4 separate regions of the Homo sapiens genome follow, and regions 1, 2 and 4 are each linked to region 3. Evidence: fine-mapped expression QTL. A gene starts in region 3. Each other region holds a variant in brackets. All regions are shown on one strand. Distances are between the middles of the regions. Region 1 has its middle 25 kb from the start of TMEM255A. Region 2 overlaps TMEM255A (transmembrane protein 255A). Region 3 holds the start of TMEM255A (transmembrane protein 255A). Region 4 has its middle 14 kb from the start of ATP1B4.

Region 1 (2,687 bases), 25 kb after region 3:
GCCTAACCACAAGTTCCCTTCCCCATTCTGCTCCTACTGATAAGGTCCCCTAGCCAAAAAGCTCTCCTTATCACAGGGATCAGACACAGTTGTTATTTATCACTGAGTAGCAGGCCTCAGTCCCTGCCAGCCCATGTCATTATTCAAATGAGCCAATCACATTCTTCTGTGGGAACCAAGGATCACCTTATCCTCTTGATATTACAAAGTCTGCCTCCCACAGACCCTGCTTGTTCACTCTGGTCCCAAACACAAGCGCCTTGTGGTCTTGCATGGCATGTGTCTTCCTCCCCTGGGTCGTGGGTATATGTGACTAAAAAACTGCTGTTGATCTCATTTGTTCAGTGTCAGGTGTCTTCAGCCATCTCCATAACCCTAGGTTGGAGATCCATCCTTCACCAATGGGGTAAAGAAGTGATTATCAAAACAAAGAGTAACAAAGAAAAAATACACTGATATTGTCTTTTATATTTACTATGTAGTTAAATTTACTGGTTTATTTGCTTTTTCATGTAGATTCGAGTTGCTATCGCCTGCTTTTTCACTGTGGCCAGAAAACCCCCACTTTAGGATTTCTTGTAGGCACGTCTGCCAGCAACACTCTCAGTTTTTGTTTATCTGAGAATGTCTTAATTTCTTTTTCATTTTTAAAGAGTTGATTTGCTGGCTGTAGAATTCTTAGTTGACAATACTTTTATTTCAGCACTTTTAGTATGTCATCTTACTGCCTTCTGGTGTCCATGGTTTCTGATGAGAAATTAGCTGTTAATCTTGTTGAGTAACCCTTCTATCTAATGAGTCACTTCTCTCTTGCTGCTTTCAAGATTGTCATTTGACAGTTTGATTATAACGTGTCTATATGTGGACTTTTTTTTTTTTTTTGGACAGTCTTGCTCTGTCACCCAGGCTGGAGTGCAAAGGTGTGATCTCAGCTCATTGCAAGCTCTGCCTCCTGGGTTCACACCCTTCTCCTGCCTCAGCCTCCCGAGTAGCTGGGACTACAGGTGCCTGCCACCACACCCGGCTAATTTTTTGTATTTTTTAGTAGAGATGGTGTTTCACCATGTTAGCCAGGATGATCTTGATCTCCTGATCTCGTGATCCGCCCACCTTGGCCTCCCAAAGTGCTGGGATTACAGGCATGAGTCACCGTGCCTGGCTAGATGTGGATCTTTTTAAGTTTATACTACTTGGAGTTCTTTTTGTTTTTTGAATGTGTAGATTCTTGTTTTTAGTGAAATTCAGAAAGCTTTCTGTCATTATTTCTTCAAATATACGTTTTCTGCTATTCTCTCTCTCCTCTCTTTCTGGGTCTCCTATCATGTCTATGTTGGTATGCTTGGTCATGTTCAACAGCTCTATGAGTCTCTATGCATTTTTCTTTATTTTTTCTTTTTGCCCTTCAGATTCAATACTCTCAATTAACGTATCTTTAAATTCACTAATTCTTTCTTTGATTGGCTCAATTCTGCTGTCACATTCCTCTAGTGACTTTTTCATTTGTGTTTTTGTACTTTTTGACTCCACACTTTCCTTTTCATTATTTTTATAATTTCTATTTCTTCATTGATAATCCCTATTTGTTGAGACATCATTATTATACTTTCCTTTAGTTCTGTAGAT[T/C]TGGATTCCTTTATTTGAGCATATTTAAATCATCTCACATAAAGTTTTTTGTGTAGTAATTGTGATGTCTGGGCTTTCTCAGGGACAATTCTTATCGACTGCCTTTTCCTACTGCCACCTTCCCCTGACACACCCACACCATTATGGTCCATACTTTCTTATTTTTCTTTGTATTTCTCAATTTTTTTTGAAAACTGAATATTTTAAATAATGCAATGTGGCAATTCTGGAAATAAGATTCTCTCTTAATTCCAGGGCATGTTTTTGTTGCCATTTGTTTTTATTACTGTTGCTGTTTAATAATTTTACTGAAGTGATCTGTAAAGTTTATATTTTTGTCATGTGTGATCACTGATGTCTCTGCTTGATTAGCTTGGTGGTCAGCTAATGATGAGACAGATATCTCCTGAAGTGCCTAAAACCAATAAGGCTTCCACTCTTTATTAAGGGCTCTGTGTTTATTTGGAGGCATTTGGCACTTGGCCAGTTGATTTGAAACTTTGTCGTGGCTTTCATCTCCTCCTCATGTGGGGCCTCAAAGTCAGTCAGGAATGACAGCTTTGGACATTCTCAGGTCTTTTCTGAACATGTTCACAGCCCTGGGAATGGGAAATCCTATGCATATGTATTCCCTCCTAGGTTCTTGAGAATTTGTCAGAGCTTGTCAAAGCCCCTGTGGAGTTTTAATTTCCCCATTTTTTATTTTAAGCTTTTTGGTCAGTCTACAATGTTTGCCCTAACTGTTATCCACTTCAACAGCAGGCAGCCATGATGTTAAACAATTGCCACTTATTGTTTTCAACAAATATCTTCAATGAAAGGCTTTTCACACTGAACAAGCTCTGAGTCAGGTAAAATAAAGACAAACTTTGTGAGTAGAGTCTTCCAGGGAACTATCATATGGGTCAAGTAATGACAATTACATGAGTATAGAGCTTTGAAGGAGCTCTAACTCCATTCTTCCTCCTCTAGTGACTTACAAGCTCCTGATTTTCCACATTATTGTGTGATATGTTTTCAAGGCTACTGCAGAGCTGGAGAGAAGGGGATGGGCATAGAACAAG
Region 2 (2,687 bases), 40 kb before region 3:
TTTAGAGAAGGCAGCACAGAAGAAACATGAGAGTAAGATTAAATGGGTATAGGAAAGTCTCTGAAGAGAAGACAGTCAGGGGTAGAGGATATAGAGAAAATGGACAAGCCAGCAAGAGAAGGAAGAAGAGGAAATGGGGAATGGAGTGAAGACTTAGTCAGGGATGGGGCAAAAGAGATGGGCCAAAATAGTGGTCTGGTTATATTTTAAATCAATAAATCTGATTTTACAATAAATTTGGGCCCTGTTTCTATTTGTGTGCACGTATAGGAGTGTGTGTTTGTGTGTGTGTGTGTGTATGTGTATTTCTGTTAGAATTCTGGGGCTTACGTTGTGAGACGCCCGCCCTGCCCCCCCATTATTGATCAGTAGCATTCCGAGCTCCAGTAACACAAAAGGTTACTAGGTAGCACAGCAAATGGTGAAAGCAATCTTGCCTGGACAAAACTGAGTCTATTCTGAGACAATGATTGTGGACTTTGGAAAGAATGCTACTTTTTTTCCCTCTCCAGTTTACTCTAAACCAGCGATACCAATTAGGAGAAAATGGAAAGATATATTCACTTTTTAAAAATTCATCTCAAATCCTCATATCTTTGGTCAACAAGCACTTCTTCAAACATTTCTTTAAGATCTTTTTCACCAAGCACCTCTTGTCAGGGTTCCTTTCAGGATCCCACAACTTTGGAAATGGTGGTTCCTAGCTGATTCCATTGAAGACTGCCAGCTCACAGCCCTCGGCTCCTGTCCTCACTCTCTGCAAACGGCTTTCATCAGCCAGCACCCCCGGGCCTCCCTGCAGACCCCGGGGACTCTACTCAGGGAGAGGCACATCACAAGTCACCAACCACACTTGGATGTAGGCCAAGGATTGTACTTAGGCTCACCTGAATGATGTTCCTGGACTTTTTACACCATGGTCTTATTTTAATAGAGTGATCTAGGCAATGATTCCTCCTTGGTATCCTTATCTGTGCCCCCACTGGTTCTCTAATCTCATGAATCAAAGATCTTCTCCCCAGATCTTTGCTTTCATTTTTTTTCTGCCCTGGTCCTTGATAGAGTTCCCGGGATTCACATTTGATAATGCTCGGTACTTCCCTTGCTCTCCTTCCGTACTGTCAAAGAAGCTCCCAACAGGTGGAAACAACTTGCTTTTAATTTTTTAATTAAATCAACTAAACAAAGGAGGTAATATATGTTAAAACACTCATAGAACCAGAAAGGGCTACCCAAATGTTAGTCAGGGGCAGCTGGGATGAAATAGAAAGAGCAAAGGCTCTGGCATTTG[G/A]CAAATCTGGGCTCCAGTCCCAGTTCTGCTACTCAGCTCTGGGCAAGTCACTTGACCCCTCTTGGCCTGTTTCCTCACCTGTTAAACAGAGACAGTAATACCTACCTCACAAAGTAGTAATAGTGAAGATTAACTGTGCAAAAGCACTTTGCAGAGGGTTAGGGGCCATTATTGCCGCTATCAAGACAGACCATCAGCAAACCCATTTTTTCCTCAGGAGATCAAAGATAACAGTGAAATTAAGAACGCAGAAACAAATCTATATATCTGCAGTTAATTGATTTTTGACAAGGTTGCTAGGATCATAAAGTAGGGAAAGAGCAGTGTCTTCAACAGATGTGCTGGGAAAACTGGATATCCACATGAAAAAGAATGAAACTGAGCCCCTAACTTATACTAGATATAAAAATTAAATCAAAATGTTTCAAAGCCCTAAATGTAACAGCTAAAACTATAAAATTCTTAGGCAAAAATGTGGAAATCATGACCTTGAGCTTGGCAATAGATTCTTAGATATAACACTAAAAGCACAAGCAACAAAAGAAAAGATAGATAAATGACACTTCATCAAAATTAAAAACTTTTGTGCTTCAAAGGCCATTATCAAGAAAGTGAAAAGACAACTCACAGCATGGGAGGAAGTACTTGCAAATCACATATTTGATAATGCTCTAGTATCCGCTATTTATAAAGAACTCTTACAACTCAACAACAACAAAACAGATTTAAAAATGGGCAGGATTCTTGGTCAGTGGCCAGGTCTCAGCTATAGCAGGGGAGTGGAGGGTGTGGGATGCTGGGGGTGCCCAGCTCTGAAGCTCAGTGTGGGGCCCAAGACTGAGGCCCCCAGCCCTTACAGCTGCTCTGTGGGGAGCCCTGTCTGCACCTAGGGCCCTGAGCATTTGCTTAGTCACCTGGCTTGTTGAGGCAGGGGGTCCCCAGGCCGGAATCCATGGAGGGCTCTGGGCACCTCTCTCAGTACTGAGGGTGCCTCTGGGGAGCATGAGGACCCTGCAGCCCAGGCCTTGTCCTTAGGGTATGGGAAACTGAAGGTCCCATTGACTGAGGTTGGCTTTTACGCACTTGATGCACTGATACGGTTTGGATTTGTGTCCCCACCCAAGTCTCCTCTTGAACTGTAATCCCTGTAATCCCCAGGTGTTGAGGGAGAGACCTGGTGGGAGGTGATTGAATCGTGGGGGTGGTTCCTCCATGCTGCTGTTCTGATGATAGTGAATGAGTTCTCACGAGATCTGATGCTTTTATAAGGGGCTCTTCCCCCTTTGCTTCCTTCACATGCACTCTCACCTGTTGCCATGTAAGATGTGCCTGCTTCTCCTTCTGCCATGATTGTAAGTTTCCTGAGGCCTTCTCAGTCATGCAGAGCTGAGTCAAT
Region 3 (2,687 bases):
CCACCATCCAGGAGATAACACTTTCTGGGGCCCCTCCGGTGAACGAGTTTTGTTGACACTGAGTCTTCTGCGGGCAGTAGGGAGATTATATAGGGGGTTCGATCTTCTCCCTGCCCCCTCCACTCGAGATGTTCCCGCAAATTCATCGGAGAAGACCTGAGCAGACTGATGGCAGGAACTGCGGGACAGAGGGATTTTGCAGAATGTAAAGTATGTTGGAAAGAGAGAATTCGATTTGATTGAAGTGTATCCGAGGCGAATTTTAAAAGATTAGGTGGGATCATGATTTTACAATCCCCTCCCGCTCTCCAGGGCTCCAAATTAATTTCTCCGCCCAGTGAAATCACAGGGCTTGGGAAGGTGCCTAACAGCTGAGGGGGACTGGGTTTGTTTTTTTTTGTAACTACCAAAAAGCAGCTTCGAGGGGCAGCCAAGTTGGTGCCCGAAGGTAGCTGTCCCCCAGTTTCTATAAGGAAAGGAGTCGAAGGGTGCCCCTCCCCCTCCATTCCGCCCTGCGAGGAAAAGCGCGACTTCAGAAGATGCGCGGGCTCGCGCTGGATGTTTCTTTCTCGCGCTCTCACTCCTGCCCCTGACTCCCTTTTCACACTCATGCACATTCCGTGCATTTGGAGCAGAGTAACAATCAAATTCAAAGAATGTTGATCCCGCCGCTGCAGAGGGCAGGGCTGGGCTGTCTTGAGTGATTCCTCAGGAATTCCCCTCCCCTCATCCCCCCCTTTCTTCTCACCCCCGCCCATCCCCCAGAGTTGCGCAACCCGCCCCCCCCCCCCAATCAGCGAGGTGCAAGTCAGGCCCCCACCCAACTGCATCTCTAAATTTCAGGGCAGCTTCAAGAGAGTTGGGAGGGGGCGAGGACCCTGCTTCTAATTGTCGTTAGTCGTGAGCTCTTAGAAGTGACCAGGACTTTGCAAAGAGGGAGTGTCGAATGGAAAGCGAAGGCGCAGGTTGCAGGGAAGTGTTTTGATCCTCAGATTGCTGGGATTTACCACCGACTGCAAGTCTGTAGACACACGCACACAAACAGGCACACACCCGCACTCCGGGGCAGAGATACTCCGACGCAAGCTTGGCGCTCCGATCTCCGCACGTCGCTCCCGCTGCAGCCAGGCCGCTCCCCTGGGACTCTGGTCCACCACCCAGACGCTGGGGCGCGAAGACCACCCCATCCATGCCCCGTTTCCCGCTCTCCGGCTTTTGGGGCAGCTGGGGCGTTCACAGTCCAGAGGCCAGGGCACTCAACCCCTGCTGCCGCCGCCCGAAGGAAGGGCCGCTAGACTTACCCATGGAATCGGGCAGGGACATGTCGCTGGACCGCTGCTGAGTCAGGGACTGATGCATGGTGAAAACTGCCCGGTTGCCCCAGTCCCCGAAGCTGCTTCAAGCGCCCCCGGCTCTGGGCGCCCCGCAGAGCATCCTACTCCGCGGTTGCCTCTCTCGGTCCTTCCGAGAGCTGAGAGACACTGCCTCTGGTTGCGAGCTGCAGCCCAAGTGCCGCCTCCCCCTCCCTTCCACTCTTCTCCCTCCCTCCTCTTCTGCCTCCCTCTGCTCTGGGAGGCAGCAGCATTGGCGGTCCGTGCAGCCGCGTGCGCTTGCGCAAGACCCCCCCCCTCCTCCCTCCCCCTCAGTCTCCCCATCCTAGTTATCCACCTCCCAGCCTTCCAAGCCAGACAGGGAGCAGTTTTAGCCCCTTGGGGCCAGGGCTGCGCAGAGAAAGAGGGGGAGGCTTCAGTATGAAGCCAACCAACCTTCTCTATAGTTGGACAGGGTCTTGGGTAATTATCCTGTTCTAGGATTTATAACTGGGGAGGGGGTCAGAGTCAGAGGTTCAGAGCTGAGGAACACACACACACACACACACACACACACACACACTTGAGCAGGTCTGGTCTTAGTGCTTCCAGAATGACATAATGGAGCTGGAGATGATCCAGAGAAGGGCCACTCTATAATCAAAGGGATGGTGTGTGTGGGGCGGGGGGAGGGTGGTGGCTGACATATGAAGATAGATTAAACAAACGCAGACTCTTTAGTCTAGAACGATGAAGGCTGGGAAGTGATGTGACCAGAGTGTATAAAATTATGCAGAGACGGAGAGAAGGAGCACAGCCTTATTCACCAGACCTGAGAATTCTAGAACCAACAGCCCCCAATCTTTAGCTAGAAAATTCAGCTAAAGTATAACTCTGCACCAGAACCCCAGTTTGTACTGTTCAAGTGCTTTTATAACAAGGATCTCATTTTATCATCATAGCAGCCATGCAAGGGAGGAAGAGGAGTTATCAATAACCCCATTATGCAGAGGAGGAAACTGAATCTCAGAGAAGGGAAGAAAATATCCTGTGCCCACTCAGCTAGTAAGTGGCAGAAGTGAGAGCTAGAACCTAGATCTGTTGGACTCCAAGGTGAGTGTTCTTGCTATGGCGACTGAAAAGAACTATTATTCTCTATAGCAAATGGAAAACCTAAGGAATTCATTAGCTCCAAAAGATGCAGCAAGATGAAAATGCAAGTAGCTTTGGAAAGAGTGAAAGTAAAGTCATGGCTGACAGATCCACTGTGGATTACTAAGGGAAACTGGGGATGAGGTGGGAATGTCATTGATCTTGGAAGACAGCCAAATCCTTCTCGAACCTATCCTTTTGGACCCCATTAGGATATTGGGCTTG
Region 4 (2,687 bases), 36 kb after region 3:
TCGGATAAAGAGTCAAGTAACCCATCAGTGTGCTGTATTCAGGAAACCCATCTCACGTGCAGAGACACACATAGGCTCAAAATAAAGGGATGGAGGAAGATCTACCAAGCAAATGGAAAACAAAAAAAGAAAAGCAGGGGTTGCAATCCTAGTCTTTGATAAAACAGACTTTAAACCAACAAAGATCAAAAGAGACAAAGAAGGCCATTACATAATGGTAAAGGGATCAATTCAACAAGAAGAGCTAACTATCCTAAATATATATGCACCCAATACAGGAGCACCCAGATTCATAAAGCAAGTCCTCAGAGACCTACAAAGAGACTTAGACTCCCACACAATAATAATGGGAGACTTTAACACCCCACTGTCAACATGAGACAGATCAACGAGACAGAAAGTTAACAGGGATATCCAGGAATTGAACTCAGCTCTGCACCAAGTGGACCTAATAGACATCTACAGAACTCTCCACCCCAAATCAACAGAATATACATTCTTCTCAGCACCACACCACACTTATTCCAAAATTGACCACATAGTTGGAAGTAAAGCACTCCTCAGCAAATGTAAAAGAACAGAAATTATAACAAACTGTCTCTCAGACCACAATGCAATCAAACTAGAACTCAGGATTAAGAAACTCACTCAAAACCACACAACTACATGGAAACTGAACAACCTGCTCCTGAGTGACTACTGGGTACATAATGAAATGAAGGCAGAAATAAAGATGTTCTTTGAAACCAATGAGAACAAAGACACAACATACCAGAATCTCTGGGACACATTCAAAGCAGTGTGTAAAGGGAAATTTATAGCACTAAATGTCCACAAGAGAAAGCAGGAAAGATCTAAAATCGACACCCTAACAGCACAATTAAAAGAACTAGAGAAGCAAGAGCAAACACATTCAAAAGCTAGCAGAAGGCAAGAAATAACTAAGATCAGAGCAGAACTGAAGGAGATAGAGACACAAAAAACCCTTCAAAAAATCAATGAATCCAGGAGCTGGTTTTTTGAAAAGATCAACAAAATTGATAGACCGCTAGCAAGACTAATAAAGAAGAAAAGAGAGAAGAATCAAATAGACGCAATAAAATATGATAAAGGGGATATCACCACCGATCCCTCAGAAATACAAACTACCATCAGAGAATACTATAAACACCTCTACGCAAATGAACTAGAAAATCTAGAAGAAATGGATAAATTCCTTGACACATACACCCTCCCAAGACTAAACCAGGAAGAAGTTGAATCTCTGAATAGACCAA[C/T]AACAGACTCTGAAATTGAGGCAATAATTAATAGCTTACCAACCAAAAAAAGTCCAGGACCAGATGGATTCATGGCCGAAATCTACCAGAGGTACAAGGAGGAGCTGGTACCATTCCTTCTGAAACTATTCCAATCAATAGAAAAAGAGGGAATCCTCCCTAACTCAGTTGATGAGGCCAGCATCATCCTGATACCAAAGCCTGGCAGAGACACAACAAAAATAGAGAATTTTACACCAATATCCCTGATGAACATCTATGCAAAAATCCTCAATAAAATACTGGCAAACCAAATCCAGCAGCACATCAAAAAGCTTATCCACCAAGATCAAGTGGGCTTCATCCCTGGGATGCAAGGCTGGTTCAACATGCACAAATCAATAAATGTAATCCAGCATACAAACAGAACCAAAGACAAAAACCATATGATTATCTCAATAGATGCAGAAAAGGCCTTTGACAAAATTCAACAACCCTTCATGCTAAAAACTCTCAATAAATTAGGTATTGATGGGACGTATCTCAAAATAATAAGAGCTGTCTATGACAAACCCACAGCCAATATCACACTGAATGGGCAAAAACTGGAAGCATTCCCTTTGAAAACTGGCACAAGACAGGGATGCCCTCTCTCACCACTCCTATGCAACATAGTGTTGGAAGTTCTGGCCAGGGCAATCAGGCAGGAGAAGGAAATAAAGGGTATTCAATTAGGAAAAGAGGAAGTCAAATTGTCCCTCTTTGCAGATGACATGATTATATATCTAGAAAACCCCATCGTCTCAGCCCAAAATCTCCTTAAACTGATAAGCAACTTCAGCAAAGTCTCAGGATACAAAATCAATGTGCAAAAATCACAGGCATTCTTATACAACAATAACAGACAAACAGAGAGCCAAATCATGAGTGAACTCCCATTCAGAATTGCTTCAAAGAGAATAAAATACCTAGGAATCCAACTTACAAGGGATGTGAAGGACCTCTTCAAGGAGAACTACAAATCACTGCTCAATGAAATAAAAGAGGATACAAACAAATGGAAGAACATTCCATGCTCATGGATAGGAAGAATCAATATCGTGAAAATGGCCATACTGCCCAAGGTAATTTATAGATTCAATGCCATCCCCATCAAGCTACCAATGACTTTCTTCACAGAATTGGAAAAAACTACTTTAAAGTTCATATGGAGCCAAAAAAGAGCCCACATTGCCAAGTCAATCCTAAGCCCAAAGAACAAAGCTGGAGGCATCACGCTACCTGACTTCAAACTATGCTACAAGGCTACAGTAACCAAAACAGCATGGTACTGGTACCAAAACAGACATATAGACCAATGGAACAGAACAGAGTCCTCAGAAATAATGCCATATATCTACAACCATCTGATCTTTGACAAACCTGACAAAA

The links.
Region 1: its variant is fine-mapped to the expression of TMEM255A in whole blood (TOPMed, PIP 0.97).
Region 2: its variant is fine-mapped to the expression of TMEM255A in lung (TOPMed, PIP 0.99).
Region 4: its variant is fine-mapped to the expression of TMEM255A in whole blood (TOPMed, PIP above 0.99).

Annotation. Positions count from the first base shown.
Region 1 is chrX:120,334,705-120,337,391 of GRCh38, forward strand. No RefSeq gene overlaps it. Among named protein-coding and RNA genes, the nearest start is that of TMEM255A, 25 kb to the left of the region's middle. The variant T/C (reference allele first, on the strand shown) is at 1,624.
Region 2 is chrX:120,270,015-120,272,701 of GRCh38, forward strand. The region is part of intron 7 of TMEM255A (transmembrane protein 255A); the gene reads right to left. It also overlaps the pseudogene PFDN4P3. Among named protein-coding and RNA genes, the nearest start is that of ZBTB33, 21 kb to the left of the region's middle. The variant G/A (reference allele first, on the strand shown) is at 1,292.
Region 3 is chrX:120,309,951-120,312,637 of GRCh38, forward strand. TMEM255A (transmembrane protein 255A) reads right to left here and starts at 1,511. Exons shown (of 9, transcript NM_001104544.3): 1 at 1,302-1,511. The coding sequence starts at 1,359.
Region 4 is chrX:120,346,445-120,349,131 of GRCh38, forward strand. No RefSeq gene overlaps it. Among named protein-coding and RNA genes, the nearest start is that of ATP1B4, 14 kb to the right of the region's middle. The variant C/T (reference allele first, on the strand shown) is at 1,278.